2 separate regions of the Homo sapiens genome follow, and region 1 is linked to region 2. Evidence: fine-mapped expression QTL. A gene starts in region 2. The other region holds a variant in brackets. All regions are shown on one strand. Distances are from middle to middle. Region 1 overlaps DLG2 (discs large MAGUK scaffold protein 2). Region 2 holds the start of TMEM126A (transmembrane protein 126A).

The links. PIP is the estimated chance that this variant, and not a neighbour inherited with it, causes the effect.
Region 1: its variant is fine-mapped to the expression of TMEM126A in tibial artery (GTEx, PIP above 0.99).

Annotation. Positions count from the first base shown.
Region 1 is chr11:85,603,747-85,612,084 of GRCh38, reverse strand. All of the region lies in intron 2 of DLG2 (discs large MAGUK scaffold protein 2), which reads left to right. Among named protein-coding and RNA genes, the nearest start is that of DLG2, 19 kb to the left of the region's middle. RefSeq lists a silencer at 2,533-2,733 and enhancers at 3,147-4,106, 4,849-6,048. The variant C/T (reference allele first, on the strand shown) is at 4,609.
Region 2 is chr11:85,643,716-85,652,053 of GRCh38, reverse strand. It overlaps TMEM126A (transmembrane protein 126A), which reads right to left and starts at 4,087. Exons shown (of 5, transcript NM_032273.4): 1 at 3,965-4,087; 2 at 1,713-1,805. The coding sequence starts at 1,798. RefSeq lists enhancers at 3,837-4,106, 4,277-4,326.

The DNA of each region.
Region 1 (8,338 bases), 40 kb after region 2:
CTTTACTACTTCTATTTCTTTCTGTCTCTTTGACTCCTTTGTATCTTCCTCTCTTTCCTTCTCTCTTTGACTTTCAGTCTCTTCCTCTCTGTCTCTCTCTTTGACTTCCTATCTCTCTTTTTCTCTCTCTCTATATCTCTGTCTCTTCCTCTCTCTCTCTCTCTGCTGGTCTTTCCCTGCCTCTGCCAGCTGCTTATGCTGCTGTTCTCCCCTCTCCTTCCCCTTTTTGATGGCTTCGACAGTGTAAGACTGCCACCCCCTTGGGTTTTTGCACTGAGTGCAATAACTCCATGATTTCCTTGTGGTATTTAATGGGGGTTCCCCCAGAGGTTAGGAACTCCCTTTCTTTCCATATTGTAGCATAGGCATGTAGGATTAGATAAGCATATCTGCTATCTGTATACACATTTATTCTTTTTCCCTTTCCCAGTTATAAGGCTCGGGTAAGTGCCACTAGTTCTGCTAACTGGGCACTGGTCCCTGGGGGAAGAGGTTTACTTTCAAGTACGGTTACATCATTAACTATGGCATAACCTGCCCGTAGTATCCCATTCTCCACAAATGAACTTCCATCAGTCTAAGTGGACTTCTAAGAGATCATCTCGGGCGGCATAAGTTTGGACTATAAGTTTGGCAGTCATGCTGATTGGTTCCCCATCCTCTGGGAGAAAAGTGGCAGGGTTGAGGGCTGCACACATAGGTATTTGAAGCACCGGTCCTTCAAGGAGTAGTGCCTGGTATCTAAGTAGGCAGTTGTCTGATAGCCATAAACTTCCTTTGGCACCTAGTATGCCATTTACATCATGAGTAGTCCAGACAGTGAGATCTTTTCCTTGTATTATCTTGATAGCCTCTGACACTAAGATGGCCACTGCCACAACTACCCTTAAACAGTGAGGCCAGCCTTTTGCTACTACATCAATTTTCTTACTTAGGTATGCCACTGGTTGGGGGTTCATCCCATGAGCCTGCGTAAGGACTCCAAGAGCTATCCCTGCTGTCTCTGTGACATATAGAGATAAGTTTTGTCCTGTGGGAAGGCTTAAAGCTGGAGTTGTACTAGGGCCCGCTTTAAGGTTTTGAAGGCTGTTTCTGACCCTGGTTCTCATTCTACTAGATGAGTATTTGCCCTCTGGGGCTCCTTGATTAGAGTATAGAGTGGTCTGGCCATCTCGCTGTATCCGGGGATCCATAGTCGGCAAAAGCCCGTGATTCCAAGGAACCCCTGCAACTGTTTTAATGTCTTAGGGTGATGATAAGCCAGTATAGGCTGTATTCATTCCTTGCTGAGGGCCCTGGCCCCTCTGGCTAAGATTAAGCCTAGATATTCGACCTGCTGTAGGCAAAGCTGGGCCTTTGACCTAGATGCCTTGTACCCTTGATTAGCTAGAAAGTTCAAGAGATCTAGAGTAGCCTGTTGGCATGAGGCTTCCAAACTGGTAGCCAAAGGTAAATCATCCACATACTGAAGGGCCAGAGTGCCTGAACTTGAGAAGTGGCCTAGATCTTGGGCCAGTGCCTGACCAAACAGGTAAGGGCTATCCCTAAACCCGTGGGGCAAGATCGTCTGTGTAAGTTGGGATGTGTGGTCTGTGGGGTCCTCACAGGCAAAGAGAAACTGGGAGTCAGAGTGCAGGGGAATACAGAAGAAGGCATCCTTGAGGTCCAGAACAGTGAACCATTCTGCTTCCTCTGATATTTGAGAGAGCAGGGTATAGGGGTTGGGTACAACTGGATATAGAGGAATTATTGCCTTATTGATGAGTCCAAGATCTTGCACTAGTCTCCACTGACCATTCAGTTTTTGTACTCCTAGAATTGGGGTGTTGCAGTCACTGCTGCATTTCCTTACTAAGCCTTGAGCTTTTAAATGTTTAACAATATCTTGTAATCCTTTATGAGCTTCAGGCCTTAAGGGATGTTACCTTTGATAAGGAAAAGTGGTGGGATCTTTTAGCCTGATTTGGACTGGGCGGGCATTTTTTTCCTTCCAAATTATCCTTCCAATGCCCAGACTTCAGGGTTGATTCCCTTCTCAAGTAGGGGACAACAAATGGATAACTTGTTCCCCATATTCATGTAAATAATAGCTCCAGCTTTGGCTAATATATCCCTCCCTAATAAGGGTGTGGGACTTTCAGGCATAACAAGAAAGGCATGTGAAGAGAGCAAAGTCTCCCAATTACAACTGAGGAGGTGGGAGAAATACCTGGTTACAGACTGTCCCAGGATTCCCCGGATGGTAACGGACCTTGAGGACAGTCGTCTGGGACAGGAGATTAACACTGAGAAGGCCGCACCAGTGTCCAGGAGGAAGTCAATTTCCTGGCCCTCAATGGTTAAACGTATCCGGGGCTCAGTGAGGGTGATAACATGAGCTGGTGCTTGCCCCAGGCACCCTCAGTCCTGTTGTTGGGTCTTCTTATTGGGGGTTACTGGCCCAGAGAACCTCTGCACTCTGTGGCAGTGCACCTTCCAGTGATTGCCTCAGCATAGCAGACATGGACGAGGGGGCAGCTTGTTTCTCATTGGACAATCTTTTTTAAAGTGTCCTTGTAAACCACACTGATAACAAGCCCTACCGAGTGATTGGCCTGCTCCATTTTCTGACCTCTTTGAACCACCAAAGTTTGTTTGTCTGAGGGCCATGACTAAGGCTGTGGTCTTTCTCTGATTTCACTTTTCCTTTTGGGCCTGTTCCTCTTGGTCCCTATTATAGAACACTGAGGTTGCCTGGTTTAATAATGCCTCCAGATTTTGTTCAGGGCCCAGGGCTTGCTTTTGGAGCTTTCTCCTGATATCTGCAGCTGATTGGGTAATAAATGTATCTTTTAGAATCAATTGACCCCGTAGTGAGTTGGGTGACAGGGGAGTATATTTTCTTAAGGCCTCCCGTAGCCACTTGAGGAAGGCAGAAGGATTTTCTTCCTTTCCCTGAGTTATGGTGGACATCATTGAGTAATTCATGGGCTTTTTCCTAATTCTCCTTAGTCCTTCTAGAACACAGGTCAACAGATGTTTATGACTCCAGTCCCCATGATCTGAGTCAGGGTCCCAGTGGGGATCCATACTGGGGATGGCTTGCTGGTCAGTAGGGAATTTGTCCCTTTCCTCAGCTGTCATTCTATCATTTACTTGACTGAGATACCAGGTATCTCCAAACTCTCATGCTGCAGCTAAAGCCACATTCTTTTCATTAAAGGCCAGGGTTTGAGCTAACAATAGCATGACATCTCTCCAAAAGAGATTGAAGGTTTGCCCTAGACCCTGTAGGACATCTATGTACCTATCAGGACCATCTGAAAACTTCACCAGGTCTGCCTTGATCTGCTTTAAATCAGAGAGGGAGAAAGGGTCATGTACCTGGGTGGGGCCAAATTCCCCACCCCCTACAGCTTGAAGGGGACAAAACTGACAGCCTGGGGGGTTTTGTGGTCCTTTGGAGATTTCTTTGCTTATTTCCTTCTGGGCCGGGGAGATTAGAGGAGGCTTATCCTTAATGGGAAGGGGAGCTGTAGGGAGGCTAGGATATGAGGGTAAGCTGAAAGATCCTCCTGTGGGATGTAAATTGCAAGCTTTGCATAGTTATGTATTCTCCTTCAATGAAAAGAAAGCATGGACGTAAGGTATTTCACTCCATTTGCATTCCATCTTACAGAAAAGGTCAAACTGCAGGATAGTATTGTAAGTTATACTTCCCTCAGGTGGCCATTTTTCCCCATCAGAGAGAGAGAGAGAATAATGGGGCCAGACCATAGTGCAGAAAAAAATGAGCCACCTCTTTTTCAGGGTTTTTGGGTCAAATTGGTCCCAATGGCTTAGGATGCATTTCAAGGGTGAGCCTTTTGATGCCTGAGTGTTTCCCATCTGAAAGACAAAACCACCCATGGTTTTGGTTTGTTTCTCCCCATGCCCAAGAACCCACAACGGTCCCTGGACCCTGCTAATCAGAATAGTTGTGCTCACCGCCACAGCAGCAGAAACACTAGTTTTCCTCCTAGACCACAAGGAGGACCAAGGAAGGTCGGATTTAGTGGCCCTTACTGATGCATTCTCGAAAACCTGCACCCTTGCCTGTCCTCCTAGACCACAAAGAGGACCGAGAAAAATCCAATGTAGTCACCTTTACTGAAGCATTGTCGAAAACTTGTTAGAGTCCTAAGCATTCTTCTGTTAGTATTGGGATTTTACCCATGTCCTATAAAGATGTTATGCCCCAAAAATTAAGTGGAGGGCCATACCCTGAGGGAGGGGAGGGATCTCCAGAATTGGAAGACTGATGCCTTTTATCTTCACTTATATGAATAGGAAGGATACAATTTCTGAGGCTCCCCATATCCTAGCTGTAGGAATAGCCTTTATTAGGCCTGCTTGTCTGAGGAGGGATCCTAAAATTCCAGATAGTCTCCCCTATGACGGGGCTTTGGGCAAAAATTATGTCTTTTTGATTGGTGAGCCCAGGTGCCAAAAGAAGGTAACAGAGTCCTGGAGTTTATACTAGAAATCATTCTTATAGGAGAAACTAGAAAAGCACCAGAGAGAGCGAGTGGTTTTTATAAGCGGGACTAGCCTTGGAGAAGACAGGTGAGAGGAAGTTTATCTGGCAGG[C/T]GTTAGGACCCGGGGGCAAGGATCAAGATAGATGGATGAGTCTTGCTTGGGCGACATGACTTTGAGTTTCACTCATGGCTGCAGGGTCAACCAACTTGTTGTCGGGACCCTGGAGTTGAATGACTTTCCCCTCTGTCGACCCTTGGCTCAGCCCAGAAGTACGGGAAATGCAGAAGCTGGTTCCAGGCAAACCAATGCTCCCAACTCTGAAGAGTCGGGGTTTGTTAGAGAGCCCTTTCCCAGAAAGCCTGACACCCGTGTCTTTAGTCCGGCGGCTGTGCTAGTCACTTTTAACTGGCCAATAGGTGTCTGGTATTTAGCCCCTGAATTCTAAGGAAAAATAGGACAGAATAGCAAGTGAAAGTGGTCCAATGGTACTCACCACTTGGCGATAGGCGATAATCTCACTGCTTGGCGAAAGGTGATGGTCCCTTCATGGTCGCCAAAATGTGTCCAGAATTGGTGGGTTCTTTGTCTCTCTGACTTCAAGAATGAAGCTGTGGACCCTCGTGGTGAGTGTTACAGTTCTTAAAGATGGTGTGTCCAGAGTTTGTTCCTTCTGATGTTTGGATGTGTCCAGAGTTTCTTCCTTCTGGTGGGTTCATGGTCTTGCTGACTTTAGGAGTGAAGCTGCAGACCTTTGCGGTGAGTGTTACAGCTCTTAAAGGTGGCGCGTCTGGAGTTATTTATTCCTCCTGGTGGGTTTATGGTCTCGCTGACTTCAGGAGTGAAGCTGCAGACCTTCGCAGTGAGTGTTATAGCTCATAAAGGCGGCGCAGACCCAAAGAGTGAGCAGCAGCAAGATTTATTGTGAAGAGCGAAAGAACAAAGCTTCCACAGTGTGGAAGGGGACCTGAGCAGGTTGCTGCTGCTGGCTCAGGTGGCCTGCTTTTATTCCCTTATTTGGCCCCACCCACATCCTGCTGATTGGTCCATTTTACAGAGAGCTGCTTGGTCCATTTTATAGAGTGCTGATTGGTCCGTTTTACAGAGTGCTGATTGATCCGTTTTTACCAAGTGCTGATTGGTGCATTAACAAACCTTTAGCTAGACACAGAGCACTGATTGGTGCATTTACAATCCTTTAGCTAGACACAGAGCACTGATTGGTGCATTTACAATCCTTTAGTTAGACAGAAAAGTTCTCCAAGTCCCCACCTGACCCAGAAGCCAGCCGGCTTCACCTCTCACTTTCATTTTCTAGTCCTAATGTCTAATAAGTAATGATAAAATTGTGATCATTCAATTTTGTATATATTTAAAATATGAAAAATGTCTAATTGTTATTGCTTGTTTTAATGGATACATATCATACTATAGTTAATCGTTCTAAATCTAAAAAATGGTCATATTCCTCTTCAGTTAAAAATCTTCCATGACTTGACATTCTACCCTTGGTATAAGGCCAAACTTGTTAACATTGTACGTATGCCATCAACTTAATTCTCTACTCCCATGGTACCTGGTACCTTATGATACCATTCTTTTTTTTTTTCTTTGAGACAGAATCTCTGTCTGTCACCCATGCTGGAGTGCAGTGGCACGATCTCAGCTCACTTCAACCTCCGCCTCCCGGGTTCAAGTGATTTCCTGCCTCAGCCTCCCAAGTAGCTGGGATTACAGGCACCCGCAACCATGTCCAGCTAATTTTTGCATTTTTAGTAGAGACGGGGTTTCACCATGTTGGTCAGGCTGGTCTCGATCTCCTGACCTCAGGTGATCTGCCTGCCTTGGCATCCCAAAGTGCTGGTATTACAGGCGTGAGCCACCGCTCCCAGCCGTGATAGCATTCTTATACTCTGTTTTAATCTTTCACTTTGTTGGAATTTCCTAGTTAATTATCTTTATTTTGAGACTAAAATCTCTGTGAGGGTAGACTATTGCCTATTTTGTTCAGTACTGTGTTCCCAGTGTCTGGATATAGTAAGATAGTCAATAAATACTTGATTAATGGCTGAAATAACCTTTTTCTCTATCTACCAGACTTATAAAGGTAGGACCATTTTTATTTATATGTTACAAATACAAATTAAAAGACTAAATTTGAACATTTGTGATTCAACATTTAACCCTAGATTCTAAAATTCAGTGATACGATTTATGTCTGATTGGTCAAGTTTTATTTTATTTTTTCCATAAAAATATGCTCATCTCCATTTCTGGAGGATTAAGGGTGGTATTGTGGAGAGAACACTATACTTGGAATCAAAAGCTTTTGGATTAAGCTCCAAATCTGTTATTTAGTAGCTGTGTGATCTTGGACAAGCCACTCTGAGTTTCAGTTTCATGTAAAATAGGTATGACTTCTCAGTGGTGAGAATCAGATAAGATAATGCATTTAAAAGTTCTTTTTAAACTGTAAAAATGTTGAATAGATTTATGTAAAATAATTTCACTATTCTAAATGCTTTATTTTCCAAAATTTGCCTGTTAAATTCACCTTTTCTCTATTATACTTTGATCTGAGTTTTCCTAATGATACCACTGTATGTTCTGTAATTCTTCATTTTTTAAGCCATGGCAAATGATTTTATGTATCATCATTTTCTTTTCTCTAAAAGTTCATTTGTTAGCACTATTGCCAATCACTGTTTCAAATTTAAATTACCTGTCCCAAATTATTTATAACTTTCTGGTGATGCTATTCTTAAACCATGTACAATATAGAGTTGAACCTTAATTAACAGACACATGATTACCTACAGTTCTAATTATGTAACATTCACTATCCCTTGGTTGCATATTTCATGCAAAAATTTCTTATTTTAAAAAGTGATTCTCCCTTCCCCCCCATTTCCTCCTGTGCCTGCCCTCAAGTAATCCAAATTTAGCTTTTTTTTTTTCCTGTAGACTCAGGAGTCTTATGAAGGTAGAGTTTAATGAAGAAAACAGGAGAATTGAGGCAATTTAGATGAAAAATTCTCCACTTGGTTATTTGAACATCAATTAAAATATGAATCTTGACTTGCTTGGATAATTATCTCAGCTTTCCACTTTATTCAATTTATGGAGATTAGGTTAGGGATTTTTAATTTGTATGAAAAGATCCTTGCCATTTGTCTCATTTGTTTAATTTGTCATTTTTAGATTACCTTCAAACTTTCATTAACCAGAAATAAGGATTTGAGTAGAGAGAGTTGAAGAGCATAATAGAATTGACTCCAGGTGATGATCATTCTCAATAATCAAAAGCAGCATAAAAGGGCAGCCACAATTCCAGCCCTAGATGCTGGTGTGTGAAAGCCTAACTTGGAGACTTGATTATATACGACCTTTTAAAAATATTTTAGCATTTTTTATGTGTCAAATTTTTATCCTACAGCGATGAGAGGCATAGTAAGCTCTGCTGGTTTAGAAAACATCTAGCTGTTTTGAATCAATACAGTATTTTCCCTTTATAGTTATTGGATAAATATATGCTAAATGAGTGAGTGAAATTCCCCTTACTTATCTAATTATATTTGTAGATGTGATTGTGGGAATATTGTTAATACATTTTTGAGAATTGCTCTTAATTTTACTTATTTACTTAGAGACAGGGTATTTTACTTATTTATTTAGAGACAGGGTCTCACTCTGTAGCCCAGGCTGGAGTGCAGTAGCAGGATGGTGGCCCACTGAAGCCTCGAACTCCTGGGCTTAAATGATCCTCCCATCTCAGCCTTCTGAGTAGCTGGGAGTGCAGACGTGCACCACCACACCTGGCTAATTTTAAAATTTTGTTGTAGAG
Region 2 (8,338 bases):
TGGGTAGGACTACAGGCACGTGCCCCCACATCTGGCTAATTTTTGTATTTTTAGTAGAGATAGGGTTTCGCCATGTTGGCCAGGCTAGTCTTAAACTCCTGACCTCAGGTGACCAGCCCGCCTCCGCCTCCCAAAGTGCTGGGATTACAGGTGTGAGCCACCATGCCCAGCCTACTACTCTTTTATTAGTCTTTCTCACTTTCCCTATCTTGCTGGCCTGGAAACATGGACATAGTTCCTTTTTTGCTTTAAAAGGTTTTCCGTTACCTCAGGAAAACAACTAGAAGGGAGTGGAGTTGGAGTGTGGGGAGGGGGGGTGAAAGAGCTTTTAAGATCTCACCAAGTTCTTACTACTGGCCTTTTTTTTCTTCCCCTTGGAGATCCTTGTTCTGAACACTACTGGTCTTGATTTATGGGTTCTCCCTGATTAAGATGGTAAGTGGCAGCAAGATGGGGATTTGTTCAGTTTCTATTCCTGAAGATAGCAAGATTATGCTTCCAGAATGTATTTTAAATGCATCCTCTTTTCATCTCAGCTGTCACCACCCCTACCATCTCCACTCACCAGGATTACTGTGCCATTTTTTCTACTGGTATTTGTGTTTCCTTTCTTTCCTACCTCAAATCTGCTTTCCAAAAAGCAGCTGGAATGTTCTTTAGAAATGCTAACATCATCCCCCTGCTCAAAACTATTCCTGGTCCTTACTCCCACTTCCTTAGTACTTCGGTAACAATGGTTACTCAAGTACCACAAGCCTTGGCTATCTTGTGGCTAGGCATATGCCATTCCCTCTACTTAAGACACTGTCCCTCTCTCCTTCCCAGGTGGCTGCTTTTCATCCTTTTATAGTCAGAGAGACCTTCTTGACTGTCAACAAAGTGTAAGACATTTTGTGGAAGTACACATTAGCTGCCTGGCAAAGATTAGTATGTTCCCTATATTGGTTTTTCTCTTTAATATCTTTTTTTTTTTTTTTTTTTTTTGAGACGGATCCTCACTCTTGTCGCCCAGGCTGGGGTGTAGTGGTGTGATCTCGGCTCACTGCAACCTCCGCCTCCCTGGTTCAAGCAATTCTCCTGCCTCAGCCTCCCAAGTAGCTGGGATTACAGGCACCTGCCACCACGCCCAGCTAATTTTTGTACTTTTAGTAGAGATGAGGTTTCACCATGTTGGCCAGGCTGGTCTGAACTCCTGACCTCAGGTGATCTGCCCACCCTGGCCTCCCAAAGTGCTGGGATTACTGGCGTGAGCCACCATGCCTGGCCCTCTTTAATAATATCTTAAAGATCTTTAGCCATGATCCTATTTCTCTGACATTCTCTATCTTGCTATGTGTGTTCTATGGTACTCTTAGACTGGTAAGCATACTGACAGAATGAACTGGGAAAAAAAAGACATTTTAAAAGTTAAAGTTTTGTTATTTAAATGGGTCTGTAAATGTTTACATTTTACTATACTCCAAGCCTAATGGAAAAACTCAAAACATTATACAATTAGGTATGTCCAAAGACATGAGTTCCAGCCTCACCTTCCACAATTAGCTATGTGATGTTGAGCAAAATGGTTAAACGCTCTCATCCAGGCAAGAAAAGGGCAATTTCCTTCTCACATTCCATGTTGTTTATACTCAAACCAGATAAACTTGAGATAATGAATCAATGGTGAAAATCCACCTGATAAAAGGTGTTTTTAAATTAAGAAGGGATCTTACCTTTCTGCTTCTGGAAGCTGGTTAATTTTTCTGGATATATCAACAATTGTTATGTTTTCCTTATTATTGGATTTATGATTTTCCATTTTGAGCCTTAAAAAACATGAAGATATCATTTCTCAAGAATTTATACAAAGAATTTTAAAAACCTTCTGAAGACTAAAAATAATACTGTAGAGCTAATCTGAAAAAAATCATTGCATACATATTATTAAAAAAAAATCTAAGTGAAACAGAAACCAGAACATGAAAAGCAACACATAAAGCTTTTAGGAAATACAGAATATCTTCATAATCCTTGAAAGTATTTCCTAAACAATTCACAAATAGCACTAAACATAAAAGACTTATAAAACTAACAGTATTGAAGTTAAGAACCTATGGTTATCAACATATACCATAAAGATAAGCTAGTGGGGGAGAAAATGCAATAGAACTGACAAAAGAGTAGTTAGTACCCAGAACATACATGGAACTACATATCAACATGAAAAAGGTAAGCAGCCCTACGGAAAAACTGACAAAATATTTGAACAGGCACTTCACAAAAAGGAAAGTTAAATGGCCAATAAACATGAAAATATGCTCACCTTCATTATAACTGGGGGAACAACCCACAGTGAGATACCAATAGGTACCCATAGGTTAGCTAAAATCAAAATCTGACAATTCCAATTATTGGCAAGAATGCGGGGTAGCTAAAACTACATTCTGTGTACATTCTGTGGGGTAGCTTTACCCAAACTGTACAGTCACTTTGGGAAAGAATTTGGTATTATTTAGCAGATAGAAGACACACATAGCTAGCAATTTCATTTCTAGGTATACCTGAGATCAGGGCTCAGCAAACTTTAAAGGGCCAGATGTAAATGTGGTAGGCTTTGCAGGTAACATACAGCCTTTGTTGAATATTTGTTTTTAAAAAAACTATAAAAACATAAAAATCATTCTTAGCTGGGTGGCTGTACCAAGGCAAGCTATAGGCTGCATATGGCCTACATGCCAGTAGTTTGTTGATGTCTGCACTAGTTAGGGTGAAAATGTGAAGGGAATGGTGAATGATGAAGATTTGGCTCAGGTTTCAGGGTAACAGTTAAGAAAAACAAAGGCTGGATGCAGTGGCTCACGCCTGTAATCCCAGCACCTTGGGAGGCCAAGGCAGACGGATCACCTGAGGTCAGGAGTTCGAGACCAGCCTGGCCAACATGGTGAAACTCCCTGTCTTTTAAAAATACAAAAATTAGCCAGGCACGGCGGCAGCTGCCTGTAATCCCAGCTACTCGGGAGGCTGAGGCAGGAGAATCGCTTGAACCTGGGAGGTGGAGGTTGCAGTGTGCCGAGATCTCGCCACTGCACTCCAGCCTGGGTGAGAGCGAGACTCGGTCTACAAAAAAAAAAAAAAAAACAGTTCAGGGATAACAACAAAGGAAAACATGCTTTTATGAAACCAGATTTTCTCATTTCCTACAACATTACAGGCACTCGTTTAAATATTTATTGCTACCTGTTTTATATCGATAAGAGGTCATTTGGAAATGTTGATTACCTTGACATTCCATATCTCTAGACTTAAAGCTAACCTAATAAGTACAAAGCAGCCTTAGAAATTTATGTCTAGGTTTCTGGTAGTCAAATTTTTGAGGGCCTTGGCTACGATAAGATGATAAGACACAATCTCTGCTGTACAGGAGCTCTGAATGATTTTGTGTATGGGGTGGTGAAATATATAATCAAATTTAGTATGTATATATTGTACTGAGGGCAATTAAGTCACTCAATTCAGTATAAGTGCTGACTGGGCAGCCCCTGTGGGCATTTTGTCTCCGATATTAATAACAAATATCTATCAAAGACAACGCCGCCTGTAAAAACTACAAATATTTCGAAAGATTTTTGTGTTACCTATCTCATGTCATTCTTGGAAGAGCTCTGAGAGATAGGCAGTGTGGGGCCTATCTGAAAGAGAAGTAAAGTGGGACCTCTGAAAATCAAATTTGGCCGTGGTCACCTTGTAAATTGACAGTAAACCTGGGATTAAATTCAATCTCAGGCATTTCTCCTTTCTACTGAGTTAATTTAAATATAAGGTCTTTCCTTCTAGAGTGCAAAGTGAAAAGACAGCAGGAAGAGCTAACTACACTTCTACTTGCTCTCATTTACGCGCAGCGCTGCTGGTAGCTAGCGTGTCACCGCGTCGTGCTTCTCCTGACACCGGGACATTTACTTCACCCCCTCCCCCGGAATACCAGTACCTTATGCTCTCCTCCCAGCAGCCTGTGGGTGCCTCCTCCTTCCTCAGCCACGCCGGAGTTCACTGTGGCCTTTGCTCAAATTACCTGGGCGCAGCCATCTTTGGCTGACTCGTGACGCGGCGTGGGCGGGCGCCGGGTCGCGGCTGCTAATTGGACTGCGGGACGGAGGTTGCAGCCAGCAGCGGCTTTGGGCTGAGAAGCTTCCGGCCCTAGGAGGTGCCGGGAGGCTAAGCGTTGAGGTTTGTTTGCCTGGCGTAGAGTGTGCTCGTTTCACCTACTCTTGCCTCCCAGGACAGAACTTGTAGAAATTGTGAAATTTCGAGATATAAGTTGGGTGACCCTCAGTCAGCCTCTTCCATTGAAAACGTACCTCGGGCATATTACTTAACTTCCTGGTCAGTAGAGCCTACTTACGTTCTTGGCATGGGGTAAATGAAAACTGCACAGCTCTTGGCATATGATAGCTACTCAGGTTAAAAATAAGTCAAAGGTGAGCTATTTCTTGGCTCTATCGATTTTCTACTCTCCCTAGGAACTTAAGCTCCCTGTGCCATGTTTTGATCTGTATTGATTGCCCTACCATAATCAGCACCTCAGAGCTGCAGCTTATTTTTCTGAGGATTTCTCGTGTTCTCCAGAGTACTGCTTATTTGGAAGCAGTGTTGGGTGAAAGTCATCTTATTTCTTCTTGCTTTTTAAGTATAAATACTAGAAAATTTAGAATTATATATGTGGCTTGCATTATATTTCTATTGGACAGTGCTGTTCAGAAGGTACCTCTAATGCTCTCCTCCCAGCAGCCAGTGGATGCCTCACCAGGTCTTCCTCAGCCATGCTGGGGCTCCCTGCAACCTTTGCTCAGTTCGCTTGGACTAATTAACCCAATAGAAGGGAAAAATGCCTACAATTGAATTTTATCTTAACTCCATTAAGATTAGCAGGTAAACATTGTGCCAAAAAATATATAACTAACTGTAGCAATAAATACATGATCATAACACATTATCAGAAATCTTAATTATTCTCATCCTCTCAAATTTCTGAACAAGTGATAAAGTGTTGCATTGTCCAGATAATTTTTATACTGTCTCTCCATTGCAGGGTTGCTTGACCATTAGGCTCCATAGTGCCAAGAAGTCTGTAATTGCAGTTTCTAAACTTGCACAAATAGAAAGACTTATTTTCACGAAGGTGTACAAGAAGGAAAATTCCTAGTCTTTTTTTTATTTTTATTTTTTATTTTTTAGACAGAGTTTTGCTCTCGTCGGCCAGGCTGGAGTGCAATGGCCTGATCTCAGCTCATTGCAACTTCTGCCTTCCAGGTTCAAGCGATTCTCCTGCTTCAGCCTCCAGAGTAGCTGGGATTACAGGCGTGTGCCACCACGCCCAGCTGATCAGCTGATTTTTTTTTTTGTTTTTGAGACTGAGTCTCGTTCTGTCACCCAGGCTGGAGTGTAGTGGTGTGATTTCGGCTCACTGCAAGCCCCGCCTCCTGGGTTCACAGCATTCTCCTGCCTCAGCCTCCCAAGTAGCTGGGACTACAGGCTCCTGCCACCACGCCTGGCTAATTTTTTTGTATTTCTAGTAGAGACGGGGTTTCACTGTGTTAGCCGGGATGGTCTCTATCTCCTGACCTCGTGATCCACCCGCCTCGGCCTCCCAAAGTGCTGGGATAACAGGCGTGAGCCACCGTGCCCAGCCTCGGCTTATTTTTTAGTAAAGACAGGATTTCACCACGTTAGCCAGGCTGGTCTCGAACTCCTGACCTCAGGTGATCCACCCGCCTCGGTCTCCCAAAGTGCAGGGATTACAGGCGTGAACCAGCGTGCCTGGTCATCTAGTCTTTTACTCACTTTGCTTTTCATCTCAAGGTTTTAAGCAAACAAATCACAATATTCTGCTTACTACCTTTGCCTTAATGGAATTTCACTAGGCCTTCTCTGTAACTGTCTGTGTTTCCTAATTATGTAGAAACTATAAACCACCATCTTGTAGAGAATAATGGCCAATAAGGTTGAAAAGTTAAAAAAAAAAAAAAAAAAGAGCCAGAGTGTGGAATACTTCAAATGCCAGACTAAGAATTTGCTCCCTTTTGTTTGCTTTATTTTCTGGGAAACGTTAGTTATTAAAAATGGGAGTTAAAAAATTCATAGTTACACTATGATAAGATGCATATGATGTAGAAAAAAATGGAGGCAATACTGCAGATGGAGATTAGATAGGTGCCTCTAAATAAAAATCTCAAGGACATCTCATACTCCAAAGCTGAAAATCGTATATGTTTTCCTCTCTTATATCTACTGTTTCCTGTCTCAGGGCTTGACAACACCATCCATTTCATTGCACAAGCCAGAAACTTAAGTTCATCCACATTACTCCCTGCAGACTAATCAATCGTGAACAATTTATTGATTTTCTTCCTAGATATTCTTTACAGAAATCATTTCTTATTTAGGCACTGGAGGTGACTCTGTTCTCACAGATTCCACTCATCTTCCTTTCAGCAATTCTCTACATAGCATCTATGAAAATTTTTGTCAGACAATTTAGCTGAACTTGGGCTGTGCATGGAAGAGAGGGGATAGAAATGTAGCCAGAAATCTGCAATGTCTATGATGCTTGCACCAGACAACCGTAAGCTCTTTTTGGAAACAGGAAATAAAGAACAATTTGTCAAAGCATATTTTTCTGTCACTAAAAATACATGCCATTCTTTTGATTTTAAAAGTTTTGAGAAATGCCGAAAGAGAAAAGATAATTTAGTTTCTTATAGCTTGTCTGAACTCTCTAACAACAGAATATTGGCACATAAAATAGTTAATAAAAGAAAATGGAATTTGACCACTTGTCACTACCTTTATTGCTACTACTTATTATCTCTTACCTAGACTGTCTATAAAATCCTGTGTCACACAGAAAAATTGCTGGGATATGGCTTTGACTTAAATGCTGCATGAATCTGCTGAAAATAGTTGATCCAGGAAGATTCCATACTTTTCAAAGATAATAATCAAAAAATAAAAGAGGGACTTCTAGCTTCTGGAAGTGACACAGTAGCTTATGTTGGACAGACCCTGTTGCAAATAACAACTATAAACTCTGGACAAGGAAGAGATTCTTTTCAAAGACCCTGGAAAGCAACCAAAATAGCATGAAAACACAGGAAGGTATACAATTCTTGAAAGATGGGAAAAATAGTGGGTAAGATCCACATTTATCCAGCTTTTTTTCATGAGGGCATTAGTCTGTGCAGTACATGGGGAATATCGAGTGTCAGTATAAAGCAGCATTCTTCCCATTCTAAAACACTCAGAAGTTGAAATTTGGAAATGCCAGATCAACTGAAAATTGGGGCAGGAACCTTGAAAAGGGAACCCCAAAATCTGTCTAAAAAATCCCCTCAAATTTTTGGCTGACATTATAACAGTACATGCATGTGGTAAGACCCAAAGAACCCAATGGACAGCAACAGTTGGAAGACTGGAAGAGATAAAGTGAAATTTCAGCAGTCATCTGATGCTGGGAAGACAGTGTATTTTTGAATATTTAAATTCAAATATCGGAAATTTAAATATTTCCAAGTTATACAGACCGGGTGAAAACTTTGGACATTCCACTGAGCAGCATCTTAGAATTAATGACTACATCCAATGACTAAGGGTTATGCCCTAGAATCAAGGGCAAAATCAACCAAATCAATATTTTTTTAAAAAAATCAAATTAAGCAAAAAGGAAATCAAAGAGGAAGGAATAATAAAGGTAAGAGTGGAAATAAATGAAAGGGAAAAGACAAAAACAATAGAGAAAAGACCAACTGTGATTCTTTGAAAATATTAATAAAATCAATAAGCCCTAATAAGACTAATCAAAAGAAAAAGAGACCAAACAACTAAATCTTTTTGGACTGAAAGAAGGGACATTAATACAGATTCTACACACATTAACAGGATAAGGAGAGGATATTATGAACAACTTTAACCCACTGTGTTCGACAATTTAGACAAAATGGACAAATTGCTTGGTCTTATTGTTAATTGCTTATCTGGAGAGTTACAATTTATTTTTTCTTTTACATTTTATAACCTACAACCTTGCTAAATCAAATAGGATTTTAAAAATTACATAGATAATTTTATTTCTTCTTTTCCAATCTGGCTAGACTCTCCCATACAATGTTGGCTAGAAGCAATAAAGCAGACATTCTTGCATTTTCCCTGATCTTAGGGGGAAGTCATTCAGTTTCCCACCATCATCATGTTAATTATAGGTTTTTTGGTAAATGCTCTTCAAAATCTTAAGGAAGTTCCCTTCTTTTCCTCATGCTGGGAGTTTTTATCAGGAACAGATGTTGGATTTTGTCAAATGCTTTTTCTG